Linked DNA regions of Homo sapiens. The protein of the gene in region 2 purifies or fractionates together with the protein of the main gene of each other region. This does not show direct contact. Each region holds a gene or a part of one and is shown on either strand. Other genes may lie near its edges. The genes, in order: ECD, EXO5, ENAH, ACTR3 and TOP3A.

Region 1 (6,423 bases), on a different chromosome or scaffold from region 2:
TGCTTTTTACACTTAACCATATACCTTGGAGATCACTTACATGAGCACACACAAATTCATCCATCTTACTTCATGGCTAGAGCACAATTTATCTAACTATTCCCCTACTAATGGACATTTAAGTAGTTTCCAGTCTCCTGCTACTATGAACAATGCTGTCATGACTATGCTCCATATATGTCCTTGTATATAGGTAAAATACATAAAGAATCATTTTCTAGAAGTGAAAATGCTGACTAAAAAGGTTTGTGCATTTTAAATGTTGATGAATACAGATGGTCCCCAACTTATGATGGTTTGACTTAACATTTTTTGACTTTATGATGGTGTGAAAGCAATATGCATTCAGTAGAAACCTTACTTACAATTTTTATCTTTTTGCAGGCTAGCAATATGCATACTGTCTCATGATGCTGGATACACAGTGGCAGCAAGCTGCAGTTGGCAATGTGATCACAAAGGCAATCAACCAATACTGTACTCTATAGTATACTGTATTCAATAAATTACATGACATATTCAACAGTTTATTATAAAATAGCCTTTGTGTTAGATGATTTTGCCCAACTGTATGCTAATGTAAGTATTCTGAGCCCATTTAAGGTAGGCTAGGCTAAGCTATGATGTTTGGTTGGTTAGCTGTATTAAATATATTTTTGACTTATGATATTTTCAATTTTTGACAGGTTTATCAGGAAGTTACCCCACTGTAAGTCAAGGAACATCTGTTTTGCCAAAATGTTCTCCTAAGGGATACAATCAATTTATATTCCTATCAACAATGTCTGAGAATGTTTTTCTGTATATATTCTCAACAACCCAGTATGTATTATCAAGCCGTTTGATACTTGCTAATAAATGATGAAAAACACTATTTTGAGGAAGAATCAATATCGTAAAAATGGCCATTCTGCCCAAGGTAATTTATAGATTCAATGCCATCCCCATCAAGCTACCAATGACTTTCTTCACAGAATTGGAAAAAAACTACTTTAAAGTTCATATAGAACAAAAAAAGAGCCTGCATTGCCAAGTCAATCCTAAGCCAAAAGAACAAAGCTGGAGGCATCATGCTACCTGACTTCAAACTATACTGCAAGGCTACAGTAACCAAAACAGCAAGGTACTGGTACCAAAACAGAGATATAGACTAATGGAACAGAACAGAGCCCTCAGAAATAATGCCACATATCTACAACTATCTGGTCTTTGACAAACCTGACAAAAACAAGAAATGGGGAAACGATTCCCTATTTAATAAATGGTGCTGGGAAAACTGGCTAGCCATATGTAGAAAGCTGAAACTGGATCCCTTCCTTATACCTTATACAAAAATTAATTCAAGATGGATTGAAGACTTAAATGTTAGACCTAAAACCATAAAAACCCTAGAAGAAAACCTAGGCAGTACCATTCAGGACATAGGCATGGGCAAGGACTTCATGTCTAAAACACCAAAAGCAATGGCAACAAAAGCCAAAATTGACAAATGGGATCTAATTAAACTCAAGAGCTTCTGCACAGCAAAAGAAACTACCATCAGGGTGAACAGGCAACCTACAGAATGGGAGAAAATTTTTGCAATCTACTTATCTAACAAAGGGCTAATATCCAGAATCTACAAAGAACTTAAACAAATTTACAAGAAAAAAACAAACAACCCCATCAACAAGTGGGCAAAGGACATGAACAGACACTTCTCAAAAGAAGACATTTATGCAGCCAAAAGACACATGAAAAAATGCTCATCATCACTCGCCATCAGAGAAATGCAAATCAAAACCACAATGAGATGGTAATCTCACACCAGTTAGAATGGCGATCATTAAAAAGTCAGAGAACAACAGGTGCTGGAGAGGATGTGGAGAAATAGGAACACTTTTACACTGTTGGTGGGACTGTAAACTAGTTCAACCATTGTGGAAGTCAGTGTGGCGATTCCTCAGGGATCTAGAACTAGAAATACCATTTGACCCAGCCATCCCATTACTGGGTATATGCCCAAAGGATTATAAATCATGCTGCTATAAAGACACATGCACACGTATGTTCACTGTGGCACTATTCACAATAGCAAAGACTTGGAACCAACCCAAATGTCCAACAATGATAGACTGGATTAAGAAAATGTGGCACATATACACCATGGAATACTATGCAGCCATAAAAAATGATGAGTTCATGTCCTTTGTAGGGACATGGATGAAGCTGGAAACCATCACTCTCAGCAAACTATTGCAAGGACAAAAAACCAAACACCGCATGTTCTCACTCATAGGTGGGGAATTGAACAATGAGAACACACGGACACAGGAAGGCGAACATCACACACCGGGGCCTGTTGTGGGGTGGGGGGAGGGGGGAGGGACAGCATTAGGAGATATATCTAATATAAATGACGAGTTAATGGGTGCAGCACACCAACATGGCGCGTGTATACGTATGTAACAAACCTGCACGTTGTGCACATGTACCCTAAAACTTAAAGCATAATAATAAAAAAAAAAAGAAAATCTAGACATTCCTATCAATGTCTAGATTGTAACATTTTTGAAAGCAAACAAAAAAAAAAGAAAAACACTATTTTGTAGCTTTAAAGTGCATTTCTTTTATTATGAGTTAAGATTCAATATTTTTCATATGTTTAAATTAAAGGTCACCTGTATTTCCTTTTCTGTGGACTATGTTCATAGTTCTGAACATTTTAAAATTAATTGGCTAGTATTATCATTTTCATATTGACTTAAAGGAACACTTTATGTATTAGAGAAGTCAGCTCTTTTTCATTTAGATTGCAAATATAACACTTTTTCCAGATTTGCTTTTGACTTTATTTATGGAGTTTTTCTTTCCCGTGCAGAAATGCTTAATTTTTGCATAATCAAATTCATCAGTCTTCCCTTTATAGCTTCTGGTTTCAAGTCATGCATAGAAAGGCCTTTCCTATTCAAATTATAAAAGGTTCTTGGTTTTTTTTCAAATTGTATAGTTTCAATTTTTATGTTCAAATATTTGATCCAATTGGAATTTATTTTGGTATAGGTATTAGGGAATCAACTTCAATTTTTCAGATGACTTCAGACTTGTCCCATCATCACTTACTAAGTAATCCATTTTTTTCATTCTAATTTGAAATGCCACATTTTACTGCATTCTTACATAAACAGGGTGTATTTCTGGACTTTGTATATTGTGCCACTATTCTATTAAGAGTCCATTTACATAAAGAAAGGAAACAACATTTTCTGGTTCAACATTACCAATTTCATGCCCAATTCATGGGCTCGGTACTGGGGATCAGATGGAGGAGGCAGCCTGTATCCACTCCGCCGGTCTGGCACAAACCTTTGTTGCACCAATTGTGCATATAGACATTTAGTGAATGTGACCTGGGCATCAAGACACAAAATACATGAGTCTTTTCCTGAAATTAAGATTGTGAATAACACTTCACAGTTAAATATAATGAGAAGTCCATTTATAAGCTTCATATTCATATGAAATGCAAAGAAGATTCAACCTATTCATTGCCTACTTGTTTTTAGTAACAGCTTTATTGAGATACAACTCACATACCATAAAATTTACCCTACTGCTGGCCAGGCATGGTGGTTCATGCCTGTAATCCCAACACTTTGGGAGGCCAAGGTGGGCAGATCATCTGAGGTCAGGAGTTTGAGACCAGCCTGGCCAACATGGTGAAACCCCATCTCTACTAAAAATACAAAAATAAGCCAGGCATGGTGGCGCACGCCTCTAATCCCAGCTACTCGGGAGGCTGAAGCAGGAGAATTGCTTGAACCCGGGAGGTGGAGGAAGTTGCAGTGAGCTGAGATTGCTCCACTGCACTCCGGCCTGGGCAACAGAGCAAGACACTGTTGCAAAAAAAATTTTACCCTACTGCCTACTTTTTAGTAATCGCTAGTAAAATTCTTATCATTAGTTACATTATACAGCAATTAAATGGCTGGAAGATAAAGATAATTCATTTTTTCTATTTCTGAGACAGGGTCTTGCTCTGTTGCAGAGACTGGAGTGCAGTGAGCAATCATGGCTCACTGAAGCCTCAGGGATAGGGTTTCACCATGCTGGCCAGGCTGGTCTCAAACTCCTGACCTCAGGTGATCTGCCCACCTTGGCCTCCCAAACCTCCTGGGGTCAAGCAATCCTCCTACCTCAGCCTCCGAAGTAGCGGGGATTACAGGCGCCCACCACCACACCTAGCTAATTTTTTTATTTTTTGTAGCGATGGGGTTCACCATGTTGCCCAGTCTGGTCTCAAACACGTGGGTTCAAGTGATCCACCTGCCTTGGCCACCCAAAGTGCTGGGATTACAGGTGTGAGCCACCATGCCCGGCCAAGAATAATTCTTAATTCTCTGGAAGAGATGAAATGTTTTATTGTTAAGAAGGAAATAATTAGGCTGGGTGCGGTGGCTCACACCTGTAATCCCAGCACTTTGGGAGGCTGAGGTGGGTGAATCACTTGAGGTCAGGAGTTCGAGACCAGTCTGGCCAACATGGCGAAACACCATCTAAAAATAAAAAAATCAGCTGGGCGTGTTGGGAGGTGACTGTAATCCCAGCTACTCGGGAGGCAGGAGAATCGCTTGAGCCCAGGAAGCAGAGGTTGCAGTGAGCTGAGATGGCTCCACTACACTCCAGCCTGGGTGAGAGAGTGAGACTCTGTCTCAAAAAAAAAAAAAAAAAAAAAAAAGGAAATAATTATAGAAATAGAAACATATGGTCAAAAATAGCTATAAAACATTGAGTATAAAATGGGGAGGCAGGTCTCTTGAAAATTTCCTTCACTGGGTGCAAGAAAAGAAAAAACGTGTATAGTTTGAGCATCCCAAATGTAAATATCTGAAATCTAAAATGTTCCAAAATCCAAAACTTTTTGAGTCCCAACGATATGCTCAAAGTTTTGAGATTTCAGAATTTTCAGATTTGGGATGCTCAAGTAGTAAGTTTAATGCAAATATTCCAAAATCCAAATAAATCTGAAATCTGAAATACTTCTAGTCCCAAGCATTTCAGATAAGGAATATTCAATCTATATTAACATGCTATGAAGAAACAGAATATTTCCTTTTTTTTCTAGAGAACAATTAAAATAATGTTTCATTCACTGAGCACTGAGAAATGTAAAAAGAAAAAAATAATAATGTTTCAACTCGGTTTCCAGTAAGAGAAACTAAATGACCAAGATAGAAATCTCACCGATGTCATTATTCGTGTTTCAGGCAAGAATGTCTTGAAAACACGACAAGCTCGCAGGTCAATAGGGTCTCGTAGGTAAAATGCCTGGACTGCTGCAGCCACCAATCTGGGGCGCTGCTTTAGCACTGCCACAATGCCAGCTGGAAGGAAGCAGTGTGCTCGATGAAGTGAGGCCTGAATTTTTTCTGGGTACCTGGGACAGGTAACATAATTACTTTCATTTTACAGTATATAAATACCTATAATTCTTATACCATTCACATTCTTTTTGACATCTCTTTGTTCATCAAGAGCAGTACGTAGAGAGTGACAAGAGAGATGAAAAAAGATACTGTATATACACTTAAGAATATACGAGAGAGGGAAAGAAAAAAGTAGGAAGAAATGGAAAATAAAGAAAAGGGATTATTGTAGCTCTATAAAAACAAAACAACTTTGGGAGGCTGAGGCGGGTGGATCACGAGGTCAGGAGATTGAGGCCATCCTGGCTAACACGGTAAAACCCCATCTCTACTAAAAATACAAAAAATTAGCTGGGCGTGGTGGCATACGCCTGTAGTCCCAGCTACTCGGGAGGCTGACATAGGAGAATCGCTTGAACCCGGGAGGCAGAGGTTGCAGTGAGCCGAGATCACGCCACTGCACTCCAGCCTGGGCGACAAGAGCAAAACTCCATCTCAAAAACAAAACAAAACAAAAATACCTATTATACTTTGGAATAAAGATAAAATCAGAGTTTATTCTTCTAAAAGAATGGTACAAAGTATGCTGAAGCTAAAAGAGATTTTTATTTTTTATTTATTATTATTTTTGAGACGGAGTCTCGCTCTGTCGCCAGGCTGGAGTGCAGTGGTGCAACCTCGGCTCACTGTAACCTCCACCTCCCTGCAACCTCCACCTCCCAGGTTCAAGTGATTTTCCTGCGCTCAGTCTCCCAAGCAGCTGGGACTACAGGGGCCTGCCACCACGCCCGGCTAATTTTTTGTATTTTCAGTAGAGACGGGGTTTCACCATGTTGGTCAGGATGGTCTCGATCTCTTGACCTTGTGATCCACCCGCCCTGGCCTCCCAAAGTGCTGGGATTACAGGCGTGAGCCACCGCGCCCGGCCAAAAATATTTTTAATATTGTTAATACCTGAATGGTGCTTAATATTTAATAGGCACCCAAATTTGAATGGATGAACGAATATGTAATTAGG
Region 2 (5,309 bases):
GCAGTTGCATGATCATAGCTCACTGTAACCTTGAATTCTTGGGTTCAAGTGATCCTCCTGCCTCAGCCTGCCAAGTAGCTAGGACTACAGGGATGCACCACCATGCCTGGCTTTTTTTTTTTTTTGAGATGGGGTCTTGCTATGTTGCCCAGGCTGGTCTTGAACTCCTGTCCTCAAGTGATCTTCCTACCTTCCCCTCCCAAAGTACTAAGATTACAGGTGTGAGCTACCACACCCAGCTGAGAAAATTATATAACCCTTCTAGGCCTCAGTTCCCTCACTGGAGATAATGGATACAGATTTAATTATAATGTGCTTAGCACAGTGCCTGGCCATAAGAGTCACTCAGTGAAGAGTCATCATAAGATTCCAGGGTCCATAAGAAGAGTATGTGAAGAAGGGCCTCCAGAGACAACCTACCTTATCTCCTACAGATGTCCAGGATTTACCAGCTCATGTATAACATGGAATCATACTAACAACATTCACCATGTTCTGTTGGCTCTTAATGTTCCAGTTAATACAGAAACTCTACCCCTGCCAATTGCCCTCCCCATGCATTGACTTCTGCAAATTCTCCAGTAGTGTCACAAGCAAGTCCTTATCTTCCAGGTGACGTCCGTATCATCCTTCCTCTAGCTGCTTTGATGATGTTTGTAGTTAAGAGCTCCACTGCCTTCTAAGATGGCTTGGGATTCCTCTCCACTACCTTTACATTTTCCTTTAAATGTTATTTTTCACCTTATAAAAAGGGTATCATGCTGTATGTAATTTTCAGGACTTTTTTCACCAAATGTTGTGCTGCTAATATTCATGCATATTGTTTTATGTCACTGTAGCTCATTTGTTTTGGCTACTGTACATTTTCCACTCTTCTGCTGATGGGCACCTGGGTAGCTTCTAGGCTTCTGCTATTGTGAAAGTGCTACAAAGTATATTCATGTTCACATTTTCTATTGCACATGTAGGTTTCTTCCAGCATATACCCAGGAGTGCTACTGCTGGATTGCAATATGTGAATGTTACATGTTACTTCATGTATTATTTTTCTTTTTTTTTTTTTTTTAAGACAGAGTCTCACTCTGTTGCCCAGGCTGGAGTGCAGTGGCATGATCTCAGCTCACTGTAACCTCTGCCTCTCAGGTTCAAGCTATTCTCCTCTCTCAGCCTCCCAAGTAGCTGGGACTACAGGCGCACGCCACCACCCCAGGCTAATTTTTGTATTTTTAGTAGAGACGGGCTTTCACCGTATTGGTCAGGTTGCTCTTGAACTCCTGAGCTCAGGTGATCCACCCATCTCAGCTTCCCAAAGTGCTGGGATTACAGGCATGTGCCACCGCACCCAGCCATGTATTATGTTTTTCGTATCTAATATTTATGACTTCCTGTTTCTACTTCATCTTCCCTTGTCTCTTTGAGAATATTTATTGTTTATGTTTTGGTCTGCTCATTCTGATTCCAAAATATGTTTATGTATATATTTAAAGGCTTGGAATAACACGTACACAACTATATATGGTGGTCATCTTTGAAGGACTGCAGTTATGAAAAAACCATCAGTTCAACTGTCCTGGACAGCATTTCATTTTATTATGTAACTGTAGAAAGCCTTGATCAAGATAAAAATAGGGATGACTTATCAGAAACTGAAGAATTTTCTTAGGAAAGCAAAGTTTACTGAAGGATACCTTCATTCCAGCCATGATGAGCATCTGTCTTCTCAGGCAATCATGATGAAGCTCCAGGGACAGTATAACCCATCTCTCCCACTCATCCCTGAGCCTTGGTCCTGGACTGAATGTGGTTAGAGGTTGTGGAAATAAAAAAAAGAACCAAAATAAGAACACTCTCCATAAAAGCCAAGCTCAGAGACTGGTCCTCTTTTGCTTAGGTACAACAGGAGCAGGAAGGATCAACATTCTTGAAAGCATACCTTCTATTCATTTGGCTTTTTTGACTTGGGGCGCCAGTGTAGAGCTGAGCACTCCACTGCCCTTTCTCCACTCACAAATGTCTGCATAGGTACACGTCCGGCACTTCCAAGCCTCCTCCACGTCAACTCCCTGGGGCTCTCGGTGGCCCATCCAGTAGGCCATATAATGCTGCACCTTGGCTCTCACCTCCTTCTCTTTGAAGGCTACAATCTCAGTACCCAGCACAGTGGCAGTCTCTTGGTGGATATACTCAATCTTCAAGATATCAATAACTGGGAGGTCTGACAGTGTTAGAGACAAGAAGACAAGTTCCATGAGGTCACCCAAAGACTTCACAGAGAAGCCTCCCTGCTGGGCATGCCTCAGCACTGATGGCCCCAGTGGCTTTTCTAGACACAACTTTGTGTGGTGGATTAGGCTAGCAGGGGTCACTTTTCCTTGTACCATGGCATCAAAGATATATTTGTATAGGCTGACTTGAAAACAGTCTTTCTTCTTCTGAGCTTCCAGAGGGAGCATAGGGCGCCTGCGTGTCTTGAGTTCCGCCAGCTCCAGTTCCCCCTTGGCTGTATAGTGCAGCTCATCAATCACTCCAACAAGAAGTACACCCTCCCCTTCCCCAAACACTGGAAACTCTCTGATGTGCCCTTCTGACTGCAGGGTAGGAATCAGCAAAAGTATGTTCAGAAACTTAATTGCCCAAGCATCTTCTTTAGTGGTGACTGGGACAGTCACAAGATCATGAAGTTCTAGTTCTCTAGCTAGGTGTATGCTGGCACCAGTGTCCAACACAGCTGCCTTCTCAGGTGCCAAGAAACCAGGAAGCTCCTTCCCATATGCTGTTTGCAGTTCACACCAGTTCTGAGTAGCCAGGTCAGTGACATATAAATATTTAAGGTGGAATCTCTCCATGGGTGATAATATATCCAATCCTCTTTTCCAGTTTTGTAAGCTTATGGGTTTGTCATCCTTCCCAAGGGATTCAGAAGATGGGCCAGGCATGTTAACTAAAGCCTTTGACTCTTGGGCATCTTCTAGGTCCAGAAACTCCAGGAACTCTGAGTCACTCAAGTCTGAGAACCCTGAGGCTTCTGCTGACACTGTCTCCTCTTCTCTTGTCTCTGCCATGGTACAGCTCTGGATTGGGCTAGAAGGGCCCTGCATAACATGTTAAAGAAATGCATTGTTCAAATAAAAACGTTCTCAAAAGCACTTTCAAATTTCAGTGAGATAAAAACAAAATTATGACAAATTATTTATTTACATTCTTTTAAAAAGCCAGTTTATTTATGACCAATTAGTAATGCCTTGAGTTATAGTCCAGGTATGTATTGCTATAGGGCTCCTTATATATATCCATATATATCTCTTGGCAGAATTTTTTTTTTTTTTTGAGACGGAGTCTCGCTCTTTCACCCAGGCTGGAGTGCAGTTGCGCGATCTCGGCTCACTGCAAGCTCTGCCTCCCGGGTTCATGCCATTCTCCTGCCTCAGCCTCCCGAGTAGCTGGGACTACAGGCGCCCGCCACCACGCCTGGCTAATTTTTTGTATTTTTAGTAGAGACGGGCTTTCACTGTGTTAGCCAGGATGGTCTCGATCTCCTGACCTCATGATCCACCCACTTTAGCCTCCCAAAGTGCTGGGATTACAGGCATGAGCCACTGCAGAATTTTTTAAGTGGAAAAATAGTTTTATTCCTGGATCTTCCACTAACATACTGTGTGTGACTTTAAGCAAATCACCTTTCTTGGCCTCAGTTTCTTCAGATTTAAAAAGAGCTTTGAGGCGGGGCGGGTGGCTCACACCTGTAATCGCAGCACTTTGGGAGGCTGAGGTGGGCAGATCACTTGAGGTCAGGAGTTCAAGACCAGCCTGGCTAACATGGTGAAACCCCATCTCTACTAAAAATACAAAAATTAGCCAGGTATGGTGGCACACACCTGTATTCCCAGCTACTCAGGAGGCTGAGGCAGCAGAATTGCTTGAACAGGGAGATGGAAGTTGCAGTGAGCCGAGACTGCACCACTGCACTCCAGCCTGGGTGACAGAGCAAGACTCTGTCTCAAGAAAAAGAAAAAAAAAAAAAAAGGAGATTTGAGGTTTGCCTTTTCTGCTTCAAAATTCTATTGACTTGAAAGAGTATTTCATTATTTTAAGTGAATATACATCTTTGTAAATGTAGGAACAATGTTTGAGAAGTTTACCATGGGCCACTTTCTACAATTTCCTTTATACAAAGTCCTTGACGAGCAAAATGAATCTCAACTACAAACTGTTCCTTGAGAAAAAGGAGCTCTGCAATAACTGTTTTTAAATGCAGTTCAAGGAACCTAGTATGGCAAAATTCAAAGATCAACTATATATAGATACAAATAAATATAGTCTAACACAAATTAATGCATGAAATAATAAGAGGATGTTACAGCGACACATGGAAATTAGTAGCTTGACTTCATAAATTATCCTCTTAATATTATAGAAATTGGTGTCTGTCACTAAACTGGAGTTTCCCATTAAGTTTATTTTCTCCCTCCACAAGAAACTAGCTTATAATGGGAAAAAAATCTGCCTATTACAGCATTATTAAAAACTCAAAATTTACTGCTATAATAGAGAATATTTATTGTGCGGTTATTTTTTGTGTGCCAGACACTGAGCCACGTGTTTTACATCCAATATCTCACTACCCTACTGTGGGATGGGGATGGGTACTGTACTCCTTTTTTCTTTCAACTTTTTACTATAAAGATTTTCAAGGCCGGGTACAGTGGCTAAAGCCTGTAATCTCGGCACTTTGGGAGGCCGAGGCAGGTGGATCACCTGGGGTCGGGAGTTTGAGACCAGCCTGGCCAGCATGGTGAAACTAAAAATACACCTCATGGTGAAACTAAAAATACAAAAAATTAGCCGGGTGTGGTGGCGGGCACCTGTAATCCTAGCTACTCGGGAGGCTGAGGCAGGAAAATCGCTTGAACCTAGGAAGTGGAGGTTGCAGTGAGCTGAGATAACACCACTGCACTCCAGCCTGGGTGACAGAGTGAAGACTCCATCTCAAAAGAAAAAGAAAATTTTCAAACATACAGAGAAGTAGAAAGAATAAAACAACAAACACCCATGTCCACACCATGTAGATGAACAACTGTTGACATTTTGCTGTATTTACTTCTTGTGTGTGTACTTTTTTGTTTTGGCTGAACTATTTTAAAGTAAATTACAGATAGCATAAAACTTTAAAATCTAAATGTTTCAGCATAATTTCCAAATGGCATTCTTCTTCATAACCACAATACTGTCTTCCAAATGACATTCTCCTCATAACTACATTATCACATCTGACAAAATTAGTAATTCCTTAACATTCCAGTTCATATATA
Region 3 (5,718 bases), about 180 Mb from region 2:
AGAAATACCAGCTTTTCATTATTACTACCAGTTGATCTCAGGTGTCACTTGGTTGGTTCTGCTGACCGAGGCACTGGGCATTTTAAATATGGAGTTTCCCTCCACCCATTGATCAAGTCTGAGGTTTGTCCATCCTTGGTGGCAGGCTAGCTTAACCATGGATTCACAAACCCCATTTGATTGTCGTAAGTCATAAGGCCACCCCAGTGCCAGTGGTTGGGCATCACAGTGAGTCTGAGGTGATGAATTTGAGTTAGCTGTAGGCTAGTTCCGCAACTCAGCAATAGCCCATGGATGGTTGGTAAAAGACGTTGACTTTGCCACTTAAATTTCCAGGAGAAGAATAGCTTATAGTTTATCTGAGGAAAGTAATTGGGAAGGCTTAGATATTGAGAAGAAAGCCCTGTTAAAATCTAGGTAGCATTTCCTTTCTTCTTTATTACTAGAGGGATGGGAGGTTCAGGCCTGAGTCAGGACTTTACAATTTGGTGTCCTTCCCAGAGGTACTTTGGGCTTGATCATTTTAAGTTTCAATTGCAAAAAAAAATTTTTGACGGAGTGTTGCTCTGTCACTCAGGTTGGAGTGCAGTGGTGCGATCTCGGCTCACTGCAACTTCCCCCCCCTGGGTTCAAAGGGATTTTCCTGCCTCAGCCTCCCAAGTAGCTGGGACTACAGGCGCGTGCCACCATGCCCGACTAATTTTTGTATTTTTAGTAGAGATGGGGTTTCACCATGTTGCCCAGGCTGGTCTTGAACTCCTGAGCTCAGGTGATCTGCCCGCCTCGGCCTTCAATTGCAGAAGTTTTTGAAGGGAGAATATTTGATCCTCACATAAAATGTCCTTGTTTCTGAAAGAAAACATGGTAAAAATTGTTATTGAGTCCATGTCTTTGCCACCTTGTTGGACTTGATTTCCCTTTCTCTGTGTTCCTCCCGCCCTCAGTCTCTCTCAGTCTGTCCTTTTTTGTGTGTGGAGTTGTGGGCAGGTCATTGGACTGGGACTGACTTTACCAGTTTTCAGGCTGTGGGGCTAGTCAGTCATTCTCTCTGAGCCTTCTACCTCTAAAGTTGAGTTCTTTTTTTAAATTCTTTTTGTTTTGTTTTTATTTTTTCCTTGCCACTATACAAGCAAGGATAGATAAAGCTTTTTATTATTATTGTTATTATTATTATTTCGAGACAGTCTCGCTCTGTCATCCAGGCTGGAGTGCAGTGGTGTGATTTCAGCTCACTGCAACCTCTGCCTCCCGGGTTCAAGCGATTCTCCTACCTCAGCCTCCTTAGTAGCTGGGACTACAGGCATGCGCCACCACACCCGGCTAATTTTTGTATTTTTAGTAGAGACAGGGTTTCACCGTATTGGCCAGGCTGGTCTCGAACTCCTGACCTCAGGTGATCCACCCACCTTGGCCTCCCAAAGTGTTGGGATTACAGGCATAAGCGACCGTGCCCATCCCCGATAAAGTTGAGTTCTGAATTTCCTCTTTCACTGTATTCTCGGCAGCTACTGGTTGGTTTATTCTTTTTTTTTAATCTTTTTTGGTTTATTCTTCTTTTGATCTTTGAAGAGAAGGAGAAAAAAGATCTGAGTTTGGCTCTCCCATCTTAAGTGCAGCTTTTAGTTGTTTTATAGTCATAGACGCTATTGCACTGGACAGCATGCATCCTGGATGTAAACAATGCGGAAAAATCAATGGAGTGACCATCTTGGGGTCAGTGGTGTTGCATAAAGCACCAGTGGTGTGCTGTTCTGTGTCAGTTTCCTCTGCGCCACGTGCTTTCACAGTTTGAATTACCAGCATCTCTGTGGTGGCTTCAGTACATTCTCCATTGTGCTTCAACCTGGAAGCACATTCTGCCGTTCAGAAAGACTGATTCCAATCATGTAATGGGACCACACGAGATCCATGCTCCAATTATATGAATAGCAGAAGGTCCATTTGACTCTTGTAGTTCAAGAGCTGTTTCTAAGTAAACAGACTTTCCAGAGCTCGATGAAGTGAAGAAGCCCTTCTTTCAATTCCTGGGCAGAATTCAGTGGTTTTCATATCATCTGAACCTGCTGTGCTGCTGTTTATTCTATCACTGTCAGCCTTGAAAGGAAAAAAGGAATAATCTTACCCTCCTGCCCTTCTTATTTTATATCTTCCATCTTATCCATCTATATCCATGTAGTCATTCCTTCCGAGTTCCCTGGTTTTAATCCAAAAGACTCTGTTTAACAGCAATGTCTTGGCAGACCAGGTGCCGCTTCCGTGCCATTTGAGGGCTCTGAGTCTTTGCTTCGTCTTAGGAAGATAAAGATAATTTGGCAGAAAGTCAGAGATGGAAATAGCAGTTTGGGATGATAAAAGATGGGTCCTGTTTTGCTGACATTCTTTTACTTTGGTTCTTGGTGCGTGTCCTTTGGGATTCATTTCTTGCTAGCATGAATAGGACATGCTTTTCGTTAGGTGCTTTTCTTTTTTGGAGAACATGAAGTGTTTCTAACAAAACTGAATGAGCTAGAAAGAATTCTATTTTGAGACATCTGTAGTTGATGCAAAGTATTTCTGTAATCCTCAATGACAGTACTTACATATTTGCATAGAATTTTTTTTTTAATTTTTGAGGAAACCTCTCTGGAGTCTGTATTTATAGGAGCATCCTGAAAGTCCCTATTATGTAGCTGGTGGGAGCGAGAGAGGGACAGCCACACTCGTGCTGTGAGCAGAGCACAACTTCAGGCAGAGTGAATGCCTTCTGAGTTCTCATTGGAAGCTTTCTGTTGCTCAGCCTCTGGCAGATTTCAGAACCTTCTACTTAAGCCAGGTGTGGTGGTGCGTGCTCCTAGGCACAGCGACTCGGGGGGCTGAGGCAGAAGGATCACTTGAGCCCAAAGTTGGAGGCCAGCCTGGGCAACATAGCGAGGCCTGTCTCCTTAAAAAATAAATAAATAAATAATAAATAAATAAATAAATAAAAACCTTGTCCTTGACTATTGTGCTGTCTGCTGCCCCTTTGTAGGGATGGGGTTGGGGTCAGAATAAGCATGTGCATGAATGGCGGAAAGCTTTGGTGGTGTTTGTTTGTTTGTTTGTTTTTTGAGAGGTGGGGGAGTCAGCAGTGAACCTTTCTGGTTAAAGAACAACGTACATAATTTCTATTATGAGATTTAGAAGGTTAAATACTTTTTTTTTTCAGGCCTACCAAGTTGATAGACCAAAAGTATATAGTAGAACAGCACAGTAGAAAAAATTTAAAAGTGAATTTCTTATGGTCCAAAAGGATGGATAGTCACAGTCCATAACCTTTCATAATATATGCTGGAATTGGAATCTCTTGTCATCTTGCTTTGCTCTGAATTTTAGAACTAGAAGTGTGCATGTATGTCAAAAGATTATGCAGAGCTATTTTCTTTGCTAACAATGTAAACATTTGCACCCCATGAATGGGACTTTATAATCTGGAAGTGAGCCTAAGGTTGCGTATACTGAAGTCATGTTTTAAAAGTTAAGGTTGACTTAAACATATACAAGGCTGTATTTTAATTGTAACTAGAAATCATTTACTATGCATACAGAACCTCATGTATCTTATCATGGAATTTGTGAATTAATGGGCCTTGCCGAATTCAAGGGTAAGGGAAACTGGTAACAACTTGTTTTAAATCAACATACTATAAGCTCCTGCTTGCTTGACTCAAGTTGTTTGAAAATCTGAATTAAACAGGATCTCATTGTCAGGAAACATCTTCTAAGCTTGACATCTACGTTTAAGAAGGGAACGTGGAAGAGAAGGTGAGACATGAAACTAAAACAGCTGGGAGGGTAGGATCAGACTGCACCTGATTTTTGGACCAAAGTTTCATATAGGAATAAATAAAAAGGAGGACCACTTGTGAGCCAACCTAGGAAGGACTTGCCAGAAAGTAGCAGCTCCTGCTGCAAAATACAGTGCCTTCAAAATGATTCTCTGTGTGAATTGCATGCAATTTCATGTAACCATAAAGTGTAACCTGTATGTGCATGACATGTGTCTAGAATGTGTAAAGTTAGGATTCAGCAGGAAGGGGCCTGGCCCTGTCACTGTGGTGGATCAGTGGACCTGCTGAAGTCACTGGACTCATGTGACTTAGGTTTGCAGCATCAGACCCCTGTGTTTGCATTAAGTGGCCACATCGTTGAAATCGGATCAATCTCTCCCTCAGCTTTCTTTCCTACTTTGCAGCTTTGCTGGTTTTAACTGCTTCATTCTTCTGCTTCTTGGTATCCTTTTTTCTTTTGAAATAAAAACATGAAATACTTAATTCAAATGAGATTTGTATTTATTTTACCAGTTGCTCTTAATTTACCAAAGGTATACGACATGAAAAGAGTTGCATTCTTTTGTCTTGGTTGTGATTCTGACCTTAAAATACGCTCAGTTCTAAAAGCTTGAGGAGCGTTCTATACTGGTCCTTCTGCATTTCAGCCTGTCACCAAGGGGAGTGTTTTGCGATCCGCCATCCTTTCCCTGAATGCTGCTGCTCCTCTATGACGGAAAGCTTGGTGACCTCTTCATTGGAGGCGTCCAAAGCCAGTGAACAGCCTGTTGGTAAATGAACGAGCTGCATGTACGTGCTATTTTCCTCCAGGACCAAATGCCCTGTGCATTTTAGTATTAAGCGTACTTACTGCAGGAACCAGTACTGGGACCACTGCAAAACTACACAATGGTGCAAGTGCTTTGGGGCTTTGAAGAGCTGAAGACAGACATAAGACTTAGTGTTCTCAGGCCGGGCATGGTGGCTCATGTCTGTAATCCCAGCATTTTGGGAGGGGTGGGCGGATTGCTTGAGTCCAGGAGTTCAAGACCAGCCTGGGTGACATGACGAAATCCCGTCTCTACAAAAAAAAAAAAAAAAAAAAAAAAGGACTTGGTGTTCTCACTTTGTGACCATCCTGCCCCTCACTGGAGGTCCCTAGAGGCAGGTGCCTTTCAGCTAAGAATATCTGGGAGTCTGTGGTTTGTGAGGAGCTTGCTGGCACATTAGTGTAAAGGGTGTGATCCTTTTAATGGCCACACTTTTCTGTATGATGTCTTTGTTTTCATTCTCTGATGTCAGGGAGGTGAAAAGAAGGCTCAGGTGAAAAGAAGGTTCATCAACTGAACCAGAGTAACTTGTCACCTCCTTTTTTGCCAGCCTCATTTCTAAATAGACTGAATGTCTGTTACCTCTCCTCTCCTTTTCAACTGAGAAGCCCTTGGTGTACAGCGGAAAGGGGCTGTAGGGGAATGCATTTTGCCACTGCAGTCATGAGCTGACCCAGCCTTCTGTATTCTTGGATGTTTTCATTCTAGGCTGAATCCCATTGTGTTATGGCAAAGAGGCCAGACCCTAAGAGACTATATGCTGAAAAGATTTGTGAAGCCCCTCAGTTCCCAGTAACTTTTGGAGCTTATTGTCATGAGATTGCTACCCTAGCCCTGGGCAGTGTGGGCAAGGACACCGTGGCACCTGGGCACTGAGTCCGGGAGTTGTATTTTAGCCTTCTCTCCTCTCAGCTGTAAAGTGAGGTGTTTAGGTCTTCAAAGGTCATTCCAGCTCCAGCTTCTATGGTTTCAATATGCTGGGGGTATCTGGCTGAGGCTCCCCACCCAGGTGGCCCAGCTGACAGTGACAGTATCATAGAGTGCGAGATAGCCTCTGTCACCACACTGACAGCTGCAGACACTAGTATGGAGGGGTTATGTGG
Region 4 (6,423 bases), on a different chromosome or scaffold from region 2:
GATTACAGGCACACGCCACCACGCCCAGCTAATTTTGTGTTTTTAGTAGAGATGGGGTTTCTCCGTGTTGGTCAGGCTGGTCTCAAACTCCCGACCTCAGGTGATCTGCGGCCTCGGCCTCCCAAAGTGCTGGGATTACAGGCATGAGCCACCGTGCCCAGCCAGAAACTTTTAAAACAAGAATGCAGTGGCTGATTCACAGGGAAATTTGTCAAGTAGAGTAAGACAATATTAGCTATAAAGATAAACAGCAATGGTTTAAAAAACTTTTCCAATTCCCTCCAACATTTTTCTCATGACATGCAAGTCAATGTTTAACCTGACACAAAAATACTGATGGACTGTTGAGTGAAGAACCTGGACGCCTACTCTGTGTGTCAACAGAAACATTCTCCTGGTCCCTTCAAGCCTAAACCTTAAAATCTTAACTCCTTTTCACTAGTGGGGAGAACATGAACCTTGAAATAAAGAAGACATGACTGAATGCTTGTTCCACCATTTACTAGCCTGTGATCCTGTGATCATAGACTATCCCTAATGCATCGGGAATAAAACTAAATTCATGAGGTTGTCATAAGGATTAAAGGACCTAACAGTGAATAAAACTCACTAAGTATTTGGTAAACATTTCCTTCCCAAGATGATTTTCCTTTATCCATAGGCCTTCCTTTATCCCTCTACCCATTCCTTTAATTTTGCTTTCAAAGATTCTCAACGTTTTCCCAGTCCCTTTGCTATACGTCCATCACCACTGAAGACAACGACTACAGCAGTCAGCACTTGCCCCATGAAAGAAATCAGTCACAAAAAGCCACAAATTGTATGATTCCATTTACATGAAATGGCCAAAATAGGCAAATCCATAAAGACAGAAAGTAAATTAGTGTTTGCTAAGGGTTGAGGGTAGAGGTAACGGAGAGTGACTGCTACTGGGTGTAGGGTTTTTTGGGGTCATGAAAATGTTCTAAAATTGATTGGATTCCAATAAGTGGCATCCAGGCATTAAAAAAAAATGAAATTGACTGGAAATAGTTGCACAACCTTGTGACTATACTAAAAACTACTCAATTACACACTTTAAAAGAGTAAACTTTACAGTATGTGAATTATAACTCAATAAAGCTGTATAAAGTAAAATACTAGACCCAGACTAATAGTGCATAAATTTACCTTTTATCACTCTTTTGCTTAATGATCTACACAATCCACTACTGTCTATCAAATAAATCGCAAACCATTCTGCCCCATTTAAAATCCTTCTGAAATAAGGCAAGATGAGTAAATAAACTACTTGCTGTCCCACAGCTCCCAACAGAAATATCTGAATTCCAGGCAGGGCAATTTCCTAACTGACCCATCCCCCAAATACTTTGAAACTCCTTCATGACTTCCCTTTATCAGTAAAATATTTGCTGGGCATTATTAAATATCATGCAGGACGCTATCACTTGAATAGAGAATGCACAAAAAAGAAATAATCCCTGCCACTATGGAGCTTTCAATTTAGCTCACATCCTAGATTTGAAGTCCTTCTTCCCATATATCTATCACATCCTATTTATGCTTTTCCAAGGATCTGATCAAGTTCAGCTTCTTCATAAATCATCCTCCAAATACTACAGCCCTTATTAATCTGCCCAAACAATTAAATGCTAGTAAGCCATCCATAATTATTTCACACATATTAGTTTCATCTTTGAAACTAAACTGTAAACCTCAAGTATAAAATCATGCCTTAGTTTTCTTGTATATACCATAGTGTTCAGCACAGAACTGAGACTGAAATAAATACTTGATTACTTTAAGTTCTTCTATTTTTTTACTTTCATATGTGTTTTGTGCAGTCATTAATGAGCACATAATACATAGTGAGTAAAATAATTACAGTAAGTAATGCATCAGTGGAGATTATTCATTTTCAAATTGCAGCTTCAGAAATATGTATGCCTTCCTTTTGAAGATATATGTAATTAGCATCATTTCCTTGAGCTGCCCTGAATTTATCAGCAATTATCAGTCCTTGCAATACTCAAATAAGCAGTAAGCAAATCCATATTTCACTTTAATGTGTTATAGGTTAATCAAATCAGTGAACTGGTCACTAAGACCTCCCTATATGTTTCATATTTGTACTAAAAATTAGTAGCTTTGGGTTTAAGTATGTATAAAATGGACACTCTTAAAAACTGGACTAATAATTTGACCACTCTCCTTGGATGTATCTCAATTAGGGAACAGTAGAGCAGTGAGCTCTGGAATGAGACTACCCCAGGACTAAAATTCTAAATCTACTACTTATCTTTGAAATGGGATTATTTATAACAGTAACTACCTCACAGGGCTTCTGAAAAGGTAATAACATCCAAAACAAAACGTGCAAAGGGCCTTGAAATGGCTGATTGGTACACATCCCATTTAATACATCTTTAATAATTAAAATCCAAAGATATAAATCTCTGAAACCATAAAGAAAAATTTTTTTAAAGAGAGCATTCATTTTATGAAAGTCATCTGTCCTGGCACCTACAGAGCACAACTTTTAAAATATCTCTAAACTTGGTTTAAAACATTATTATTGGGAAACATAAAATTAGTTTCTCATGTGTGCCATACAGTATGCCTCTGCATTACAACGAAACACTGAAGAATTCTGATGTAGGCTTCAACTAAAACTACTTTAACTATAAATAAAATACATTATGTTATTCCAATTACTTAATTTCAACTATTAACTCATAAATGTGAACTCACAAGAAAATTTAAGAGAACTCAACAATACTATCAATTAATAATTAGGAACACTCCCAAAAGACATTTCTCAACTCTGAGCCTCTGTTTCATTTGTAAATGAAGACTGGATTAAATTATCTCTCAAAATCCCTTTTCAGCTCTATAATTCTGTGTGAGTCATTAGGCATTTCCCTTAATTTACTAAAGCAAGTTTCACAAATACACATTAAATGCTATATTTGTACCCTTGAGTAACTGAATTTTAAAAATGCTTATAGCAGAAGCACACTAGATTTAACTAAAATAATCTCTATAACTAGGCAAACACTTGTGTCCTGTCATACACTAATACTAAAAACATGGTTTACATGTTTACAGTAGATTAAGCCAACCCTAAACTACAAGGTCTTCTGCACCCTAATTCTCTCTCTAGGACTTTTATCCTCCTCATTGTAACCTCTCCTTTACACTAAATACTGAAAAGCACAGAAACCCTTCCCAAGAGCATTGCATTTTCACAAATGACACAAAGTCTTAAAGCAAGGACAAAATGTTTAAAAATAAAACGTTTAGGTAATGTCCTTCGGCAGGAGGAAAACATGGCATGTTGAGTATCCGAACAGATGAATATTCTTCTCAGGTATGTATTAGGGTTGGGGAGCAGAAGGAAAGCTGAAAGAATACATCTGGCCGAGACGGGTGGATCACTTGAGTTCAGGAGTTCAATATCAGCCTGGCCAATATGGTGAAACCCGGTCTCTACTAAAAACACAAAAATTAGCCAGGCATCGTGGCGGGTGCCTATAATTCCAGCTACTCGGGAGGCTGAGGCAGAAGAATAGCTTGAACCCTGGAGACGGAGGTTTCAGCAAGCCAAGATCACGCCACTGCACTCTAGCCTGGGTGACAGAGCAACACTCTGCCTCAAAAAAAAAAAAAAAAAAAAAAAAAATAACATCTGGCCACACAAATTCAAGCTATTCCTTTCCTGGTTCCAAGGAGTATGTAAGAATGGCTTGAGTTTAAATCGACAGTTTGGAAAGAATTTTGAAAATTCTGAAACAAAATTATTATTAAAATTCTGCAAAATCGTCCTTTAAAAAAACTAGAATTTTTTTTCTTTTTTTTGCTCTGGTATTAGTCAATTATGTAGGTTACGTTGTTTCCTGATATAAAGGCCCATATAAAGTTATAAAATCAGCACACAAACTAATATTAGTCACTATCCTATTTCAAAGAACTAAATTTAAAACAATCCAATAACATCACCTTATCTCCTATCTAATAATTCATAAATGTCGTGTTTGGTAAGCTACAGCACACATTTTTGTAGTGCTATTATTACTTAATTGCTTTGCTCTTGCTTCTTTATGCTACTGTCTATCACTGATTATGGTTGTGTCATAAAAAAGGCAACAAGCTCCAACAGAATTACAAGGGAGCATTCAAATGCTTTTTTTATTATAGTGGAATTTTGTTTCAGGAAACACATGTTGCTACATTTTAACCATTCCAAACTTCTGCTCCTAGTCCAATCCTTTAGCTGTTTCCACAAGTTGGGGGAGCAGGAGCATGCTGGACAAGGGAAATTTAGCTAGAGCTAAACTCTCCTCCTGATTAAGGATTTTGCCTCTTAGAAAATTGAATGACATAGGTGGAGATAAGATTGTCAGCATAGCGATCAATTACCACGAGCCAATCAGTCACTGTGATGCTCAAGAAGCTAGATCACATATCCACAATTTTTTTAAAGAAGGGAAACTGATATTCAATCTTTCCGTTCTTTTCTCTCTGAATGCTCTCATCTTATTAGCTTCAGTTAACAAATTATGATTCCCAAATATCCACCTTCATTCCCAAAGGTCCTGTATTTTTAATTTCCTCTAGAATGTTTCCAATTATAAATCATCATTCCAAATTCAACAACAAATTCCAATTTTACTCAGTTTCTTAAAACTAACTCCCTTATTGTCCCAATCACTCAGGCTTACAATCTTGAACTATTCATTGATGCCTATTTACAATCCACTGGAATCAACTGCCAAGTCCTAGCTATACCTCCTTCAATCTCTCAAATCAGCAAAAACATTTTGACTGTGCAGAGAACTGTGTGTGGTAGGCAGGCCAAGGCCTGCAGGAGATAAGAAAATAAGCATAACACACTGTATTCCTTTCTTTAAGAACTGAAACTCAAAAAAAAAAGAAAGCCAACCAATTATTATATTTAAAATATATTGTGCCCTTACTGTGTGCCAGGCACTGTGCTGAACCATTTTCACACATTATCAAAAAACAGAACAAAACAAAACAAAACTGGGCATGGTGGCTCACTCCTGTAATCTCAACACTTTAAGAGGTCAGGGCAAGAGGATTACTTGTGCTAGAAGTTTGAGACCAGCCTGAGGCAACACAGTGAGACCCCATCTCTACAAAAAATTTTTAAAAGTAGCCACACATGGTGGCATGTGCCTGTAGTCCCAGCTACTCGGGGGACTGAGGCAGGAAGACAGCTTGAACATAGGAGTTTGAGGATGCAGTGAGCCATGATCTTGCCATTGAACTCCAGTTTGGGCAACAGAGACCCAGTCTCAAAAACAAACAAAAAAAACCTATAAGGTATACACTATCATCTCCAAATTACAGATGGGAAGAAATAAGACCTGCAGAGGTTGAAGTGTATAAAGTCATATAGCTATTAAGTGATAGAGCTTGAACTCAACAACAGATAACTACAAAGCCTTTGCTACCCGTAAATAAAATAACACGAAATATAACTGCCAGAAGAAACGTAAAAAGAAAGGAAAAAACCAATCTTTTCCTAACTTATCTCTTCTGCTCCAACTCCACCGCCAATACCAGGTTTCAGAATTTCTGCAAAGTTAGCCCTTGAATGGGCTGCTGAAGAATCATCTAGGAAGCCTATGTAAATGAATATTCATAGTCCAACCCTTGAGATTCTGAGTCACTGGGTATGGGGTGTTTCTGATGCACAGTTTTTTTAAAAACCATACTCCTAATTCTTGTTCATTCATTCATACAACAAAGATTTGAATTCCTACTATGCACCAAGCCATGTCAAACGTTCATCTTCTACGGAAGGAAGATCTAGTGTAGTGGCTCTGCCATACTTACTTGCTACAGTATCTTGGGTAAGTAGCTTAACCTCTCTTAAGACTAAATTTTCTAGCCTATAAAACAAAGATAATACTTTCCAGGTTGTTGTGAAAGTTAATGAGATAATATAAAGCATTTAGCACAGGGGCTGACATACAATTCTCGATAAATGCTAGCTATTATTATTTCCTGAGAAACACAACCTAGAGAGTAATTTTTTTCTAGAGATTAAATTTAAGCAAAGTAACAAGGAAATAGTCTAGGCATTCACATATCGGCAGGGGGGTGGGGGGGGGGAACCTAAACCAAGTAAAGATTACACAGAGGGTTTTCTCTAATTAGGTGAATCAAATTCATAAGGCTGAGATTTTTTTTTGTAAGAGTTCTTTAAACAGAAATACAGTTAACTTTACTAACAACAATGAAGCAACACATAAAGTTCTGAAAAGGCAGTCAGGAGTCCCCGGAGTGTTAACAGAAAGAACACAGGACTTAAATACAGAACTCAGGTCCAAATAGCAGATCGAACCACCTGCCAGGTAGACGGCATCAAAAAGGTAATTTAAATTCTCTCATTCT
Region 5 (6,423 bases), on a different chromosome or scaffold from region 2:
CTCTCATTTTAATGATTTGGCAGAATAATAACTGCAAAAAGACTAACTGAATTTTGAATTTTGTCATCATTCAGAATGTTACCATGGTAATGACTTCAGTTTCTGGACATTTACTGGCTCATGATTTCCAGATGCAGTTTCGAAAATGGTCAGTACAATTCTCAAGGGAAGGACTTTCAGATTATAGTAAGTTGTGAAATTTCACAGGAATTTTGAGGCATGTTGATCTTACTGGGTAATTTTTTTTTTTTTTTTTTTTTTTTTTTTTTTTTTTTGTTGGAGACAAAGTTTCAGAGTGAGACTCTGTCTCCCAGGCTGGAGTGCAGTGGTGTGATCTCGGCTCACAGCAACCTCTGCCTCCTGGGTTCGAGTGATTCTCCTGCCTCACCCTCCCGAGTAGCTGGGACTATAGGCACGTGCCACCACACCTGGCTAGTTTTTGTATTTTTAGTAGAGACAGGGTTTCACCATGTTGACCAGGCTGGTCTCGAACTCCTGACCTCAGGTGGTCTGCCCACCTCAGCCTCCTGAAGTGCTGGGATTACAGACCGTGAGCCACCATGCCCGGTTTTTTTTTTTTTTTTTTTTTGAGTCAGGGTCTCGCTGCGTTACCCAGGCTGGAGTGCAGTGGCGCAATCTCGTCTCACTGCAACCTCCGCCTCCTGGGTTCAAGCGATTCTCATGCCTCAGTTTCCCAAGTAACTGGCCTTACAGCCATGTGCCACTACACCCAGCTAATTTTTTCTATTTTAGTAGAGATGGAGTTTCACCCTGTTGCCCAGGCTGGTCTTAAACAAAGCAGGGTTTGCCTTCTTTTGCCTCCCAAAGTGCTAGGATTACAGGCGTGAGCCACTGTGCCTTGGTAATTTATTTATTTATTTATTTATTTTATTTATTTTTTGAGACGGAGTTTTATTCTGTCGCCTAGGCTGGAGTGCAGTGGCACAATCTTGACTCATTGTAACCTCCACCTCCCGGGTTCAAGCGATTCTCCTGCCTCAGACTCCCGAGTAGCTGGGACTACAGGTGCCTGCCACCACGCTTGGCTAATTTTTCGTATTTTTAGTAGAGACGGGGTTTCACCGTGTTAGCCAGGCTAGTCTCGATCTCCTGACCTCGTGATCCACCCACCTTGGCCTCCCAACGTGCTGGGATTACAGGCGTGAGCTACCACGCCCAGCAGTAATTTATAATACTAAGATGACCTAGGATTATCTGATCCATTGTGAATTTTTATTAAATCTTTAAACAGTCACTTTTGGTGTTCCTCAAAATTGCCAGACCTTTTTCATGCAGCCATTGGATTGCATTTACCTGTGAAAGGGCTCCAGAATGCCATCTTATCAGTCCTGTTCACACTCTTGGAGAAGTGGACAGTGTGTCATGCAGAGGGTCATAGCCTTACTTTCAATTCACCGGGACCTTTTCTTTTGGGGATACACCATGAACCCATTGGAACAGTTTGCTGTCATTAGATTGGAGGGCTCTCTGTCATGTACTGAGTTGGGACTCTGTTTTCATTTCTTTTCTAGGCAGAGCTGCAACCCTCTTGTCCTCTTTGAAGCAGAAATTGAAAAGTACTGCCCAGAGAATTTTGTAGACATCAAGGTAGGGTCTTTTGGAAGACATATGGCACTGAGTCAAACCACAGAGTCAAACAGAGTGATTTCTTTGTTTTTAATGCATTGGCATTTGGAGATAAGGTTTTCCACCAAAGTCACTACCATGATTTAAAAAGCTGGTTCCCACCCATTGTATAAATGTGGCTAAGTGGCCAAGGGACTGAAGTAAACTTTTTTTATGAATGGTAGTTGTTTAAATCCTAGGAATAAAGGCTGGACATGGTGGTTTATGCCTGTAATCCCAGCAATTTGTGGGGCCAAGGCAGGATCACATGAACTCCAGGAATTTGAGACCAGCCTGGGCAACATAGTGAGACCCTATCTCTCAAAAAAAAAAAAAAATTTAACCAGGCATGGTGATGTATGCCTATAGTCCCAGCTACTAGTAAGGCTGAGGAAGGAGGATTACTTGATCCCAGGAGGCAGGAGGTTGAGGCTGCAGTGAGCCGTAATCACACCACCACACTCCAGCCTGGTGAGAAAGTGAGACCCTATCAAAAAATAATCCTAAGTATTGTAAATTATTAGCGCGTAGCCCCCATCTCACCCCTTGTTAGATGAAAGAGGCTACAAAGTATAAATGCCTGTTTGACAGTAAATTGCCAGTTGTCAAGCAGTCAGGGCATGTATAGTTAATTTATTTTTAATTTTTATTTATTTATTTATTTATTTTTTGAGACGAAGTCTCGCTCTTGTCCCCCAGGCTGGAGTATGATGGTGCAATCTCAGCTCACTGCAACCTCTGCCTCCAGGTTCAAGCGATTCTCTTGCCTTAGCCTCTCAAGTAGCTGAGATTACAGGCGCCTGCCACCACACCCGGCTAATTTGTGCATTTTTAACAGAGATGGGGTTTCACCATGTTGGCCAGGCTGGTCTCGAACTCCTGACCTCACGTGATCCACCCGCCTCAGCCTCCTAAAGTTTTGGGATTACAGGTGTGAGCCACCGAGCCTGGCCAGTTAATTTATTGAGAACTGATAAAACTTTGGATGAAATTCAATTGGGATTCATTTTGTTTTGTTTTGTTTTGTTTTGTTTTGAGATGGAGTCTTGCTCTGTCACCCAGGCTGGACTGCAGTGGTGCGATCTCGACTCACTGCAAGCTGCGCCTCCCGGGTTCATGCCATTCTCCTGCCTCAGCTTCCCGAGTAGCTGGGACTACAGGTGCCTGCCACCATGCCCGGCTAATTTTTTGTATTTTTAGTAGAGACAGGGTTTCACCGTGTTAACCAGGATGGTCTCGATCTCCTGACCTCGTGATCCACCCACCTCGGCCTCCCAAAGTGCTGGGATTACAGGCGTGAGCCACCACGCCCAGCCGGCTTCGTTTTTTTTAACTAGGTCATAATCAGAACCTCTCGAAGTGTGCGTGCGCGCGCGCGCGCGCGCGTGTGTGTGTGTTAGAGCTGAATTTCAGGTTTTGTCATATTGGGGAAGTTATATTAAACCCTCTATTCTAGAAACTCGTTTATGGTTCTAAGGGGTTGTATCATGATTAGCACCAATGAGAGCAGTTTTCTCTGTTCTCTTTCCCTTGCCAAGTTGTCACACTCCAAGAGCAGCATTAACCTTCAGTCAGATCCCCTTAGCTTAGAGATGTCAAGTCACTGTTGTGCAATTCTGTTCTCACCACTCTTATTCCACTGCGAACTTAAGAAAACTTTGGAACGAGAGACTCGCCAGTGCCAGGCTCTGGTGATCTGGACTGACTGTGATAGAGAAGGCGAAAACATCGGGTTTGAGATTATCCACGTGTGTAAGGCTGGTAAGTGCTGCTGCTGCTGCTGACTTTCTCTACTTTGGAACTCCATAAATAGAGTGTTCTTGTTTATATGTGCACATGGGCCACGGATGAGGTCCTCTGCAGGTACTCTCCCTCCCAGTCTGTGAGTCCCACCAGCCATGTGTCCTGGAGCAAATCACTGAGCCATTGGGAGCCTCAACTTCCTTGTCTCTAACATCAGGCCAATCTGACATGTTTCCTGGGACTGCCACAGAGATTAGATGAGTTAATGAGTGGTGTAAACCATTTAGCCCAGGACTCATTTCTTGTTAGGTACAAGCATACAAGCAGATACCCGGCTCCTTGAGAACAGGGACTTTATATTCTTTTTGTTGTTGTTGTTGTTGTTATATATTGAATTCTTTTAGTATTTGGTTAATGGAAGCAAAAATAGAAAAATAAAATTACATATTGAATATGTATAAAAGAATGAATATACCACAAGTAAAGTACAAAAAATAATTATAAAATGTTCTGTTTTCTTTTTTAATCTCTCATATTATACAATGCTCGACTATTAATAAATAATTGTTGCAGTGGATTTAAAGGCTCTAACAGTGTTAATGGTTTTGGGTAACTTAGAGGGAGTGATGAACAGGCCATTCTCTGGCTCAGAGGGTGGGGTTGCTACTTTCCTTTAGTGGTTTTGTGTTCAAAGCTGTAATGACTCCTGGAAATTTAAGTGCATTAACTTTCAAGGACAGTGTGTATATGTCCTATATTCTTTGCTGAAGGGACATGAAATTCCCCTACAGAACCCTTTAATTGACAATATTTTTCTTTTCTCAAAAGGCCTGAGAGAGCAAGTAAGATTAAAGTTGCAAAAGGCAGCCAGGCACGGTGGCTCATGCCTGTAATCCCAGCACTTTGGGAGGCTGAGGCAGGTGGATCTCCTGAGGTCAGGTGTTCAAGACCAGCCTGGTCAACATGGTGAAACCCTGTCTCTACTAAAAATACAAAAATTAGCCAGGTGTGGTGGCGGGCGCCTGTAGTCCCAGCTACTCAGGAGACCAAGGCAGGAGAATTGCTTGAACCCAGGAAGCAGAGGTTGCAGTGAGCCGAGATTGCACCACTGCACTCCAGCCTGGGTGACAGAGTGAGACTGTCTCCAAAAAAAAAATGTTCACCAAGAGCATTTTAGTATTTTAGTTATTGGAGGGGGCCTGCCCCTCCACACCTGTGGGTATTTCTCACAAGGTGGAGACGAGAGACTGAGAAAAGAAAGAAGACACACACAAAGTAAAGGGGAAGAAAAGTGGGCCCAGGGGACCGGCGCTCAGCAAGTGAAGACCTACACCAGTGCTGGTCTCAGTTCCTCAGTATTTATCAATCACTATCTTTACTATCTCAGGGAGGGGAATGCAGTGTGACTATAGGGTGTTGGTGGGGAGAGGGTCAGCAGGAAAACAAACAAAAGACTGTGTCATAAATAAGTTTAAGGGAAGGTGCTGTGCCTGGATGTGCACGTAGGCTAGATTTATGTTTACCTTTACATAAACATCTCAGTGCAGTAAAGAGTAACAGAGCAGTATTGCCGCCGTGATGTCTCGCCTCCAGCCATAAGGTGGTTTTCTCCTATCTCAGAATAGAATATATGGTCGGTTGTACACCGAGTCATTCCATTCCCAGAGACGTGCAGGAGACAGATGCCTTCTTATCTCAACCGCATAGAGGCCTTACTCTTTCACTAATCCTCCTCAGCACTGACCCTTTACGAGTGTCGGGCTGGGGGGCTGTAAGTCTTTCCCTTCCCACGAGGCCATATCTCAGGCTGTCTCAGTCGGGGGAAACCTTGACAATACCCAGGCTTTCTTGGGCAGGGGTCCCTGCGGCCTTCCACAGTGCATTGTGTCTCTGGTTAATAGAGAGTGGAGAATGGCGATGACTTTCACAAAGCGTACTGCCTGCAAACACATTTTTAACAAAGCACATCCTGCACAGGCCTAAATCCTTTAAACCTTGAGTCAATACAGCACATGTTTTTGTGAGCACAGGGTTGGGACAAGTCACAGATTATTAACAGCATCTCAAAGCAGAACAATTTTTCTTAGTACAGATCAAAATGGAGTTTCTTTATGTCTTCCTTTTTCTACTAGACACAGTAACGATCTGATCTCTCTTTTCCCCACAGTTACTAGCTAAAATTAACTCCATCACTATTTCTGACAGTACACTCAGTTTAAAGGTTATGGTGATGTTTCCTCTTTAGACACTGTACACCATTGATTTAACCTAATAGGTAAATTGGTCATCTCACAGCTTCTTGAACTGGTTTGCCTTTATTTCAAGGGGCTTTAAGAAAAGTGAGTCCTTTATGATGGAGGGCAGTGTGATTTGACTTTGACCTTGGTAACACCTTGTGTTCTGCAGTAAAGCCCAATCTGCAGGTGTTGCGAGCCCGATTCTCTGAGATCACACCCCATGCCGTCAGGACAGCTTGTGAAAACCTGACCGAGCCTGATCAGAGGGTGAGCGATGCTGTGGATGTGAGGCAGGAGCTGGACCTGAGGATTGGTGAGGAGCTAGGCAGACCTCTCCCATGGCCACATTAATGTTGTGTTATGGGACCAAAAATGGGCTCTGTGTCGATATGTGCAGCCAGCCCTGGACTCTCATTATCCATCATTTTCACCTTCCTTCACTCTCCTTCACTCTCCAGGAGCTGCCTTTACTAGGTTCCAGACCCTGCGGCTTCAGAGGATTTTTCCTGAGGTGCTGGCAGAGCAGCTCATCAGTTACGGCAGCTGCCAGTTCCCCACACTGGGCTTTGTGGTGGAGCGGTTCAAAGCCATTCAGGCTTTTGTACCAGAAATCTTCCACAGAATTAAAGGTAGGGCCTGGAGTGGGTGTTATGGCCTGGGACCTATGGGCTCAAGGTTAAGGAGGGGGACTGTGAGCATTAATAGCACTAATAAAGATGTGATTTATTTTAGTCTTGCTGTCATCCTCCCTGGCCCATTACAATCCACTTAAAGTTCCCTTTGTTATCCAGAAACTCCTCCCTATTTGATATTCGTT

The links.
Region 1: the proteins of EXO5 (region 2) and ECD purify together in Homo sapiens (affinity purification with mass spectrometry, with the first as the bait; one study listed by BioGRID). This does not show direct contact.
Region 3: the proteins of EXO5 (region 2) and ENAH purify together in Homo sapiens (affinity purification with mass spectrometry, with the first as the bait; one study listed by BioGRID). This does not show direct contact.
Region 4: the proteins of EXO5 (region 2) and ACTR3 purify together in Homo sapiens (affinity purification with mass spectrometry, with the first as the bait; one study listed by BioGRID). This does not show direct contact.
Region 5: the proteins of EXO5 (region 2) and TOP3A purify together in Homo sapiens (affinity purification with mass spectrometry, with the first as the bait; one study listed by BioGRID). This does not show direct contact.

What each region holds. Positions count from the first base shown.
Region 1 is NC_000010.11:73,149,033-73,155,455, forward strand, and holds part of ECD (protein ecdysoneless homolog), read right to left. Parts: intron 5,417-6,423; coding exon 5,224-5,416; intron 3,390-5,223; coding exon 3,261-3,389; intron 2,674-3,260; exon of another isoform or gene 687-2,673; intron 580-686; exon of another isoform or gene 1-579. UniProt on the Homo sapiens protein: Regulator of p53/TP53 stability and function. Inhibits MDM2-mediated degradation of p53/TP53 possibly by cooperating in part with TXNIP. May be involved transcriptional regulation. In vitro has intrinsic transactivation activity enhanced by EP300.
Region 2 is NC_000001.11:40,512,298-40,517,606, reverse strand, and holds the end of EXO5 (exonuclease V), read right to left. Parts: intron 3,093-5,309; 5' UTR 3,063-3,092; coding exon 1,941-3,062; 3' UTR 1,569-1,940; downstream 1-1,568. UniProt on the Homo sapiens protein: Single-stranded DNA (ssDNA) bidirectional exonuclease involved in DNA repair. Probably involved in DNA repair following ultraviolet (UV) irradiation and interstrand cross-links (ICLs) damage.
Region 3 is NC_000001.11:225,485,406-225,491,123, reverse strand, and holds the end of ENAH (protein enabled homolog), read left to right. Parts: 3' UTR 1-4,295; downstream 4,296-5,718. UniProt on the Homo sapiens protein: Ena/VASP proteins are actin-associated proteins involved in a range of processes dependent on cytoskeleton remodeling and cell polarity such as axon guidance and lamellipodial and filopodial dynamics in migrating cells.
Region 4 is NC_000002.12:113,894,778-113,901,200, reverse strand, and holds part of ACTR3 (actin-related protein 3), read right to left. Parts: intron 1-6,423. UniProt on the Homo sapiens protein: ATP-binding component of the Arp2/3 complex, a multiprotein complex that mediates actin polymerization upon stimulation by nucleation-promoting factor (NPF).
Region 5 is NC_000017.11:18,302,076-18,308,498, reverse strand, and holds part of TOP3A (DNA topoisomerase 3-alpha), read left to right. Parts: intron 1-74; coding exon 75-148; exon of another isoform or gene 149-186; intron 187-1,003; exon of another isoform or gene 1,004-1,026; intron 1,027-1,532; coding exon 1,533-1,608; intron 1,609-3,278; coding exon 3,279-3,387; intron 3,388-5,775; coding exon 5,776-5,919; intron 5,920-6,064; coding exon 6,065-6,235; intron 6,236-6,423. UniProt on the Homo sapiens protein: Releases the supercoiling and torsional tension of DNA introduced during the DNA replication and transcription by transiently cleaving and rejoining one strand of the DNA duplex.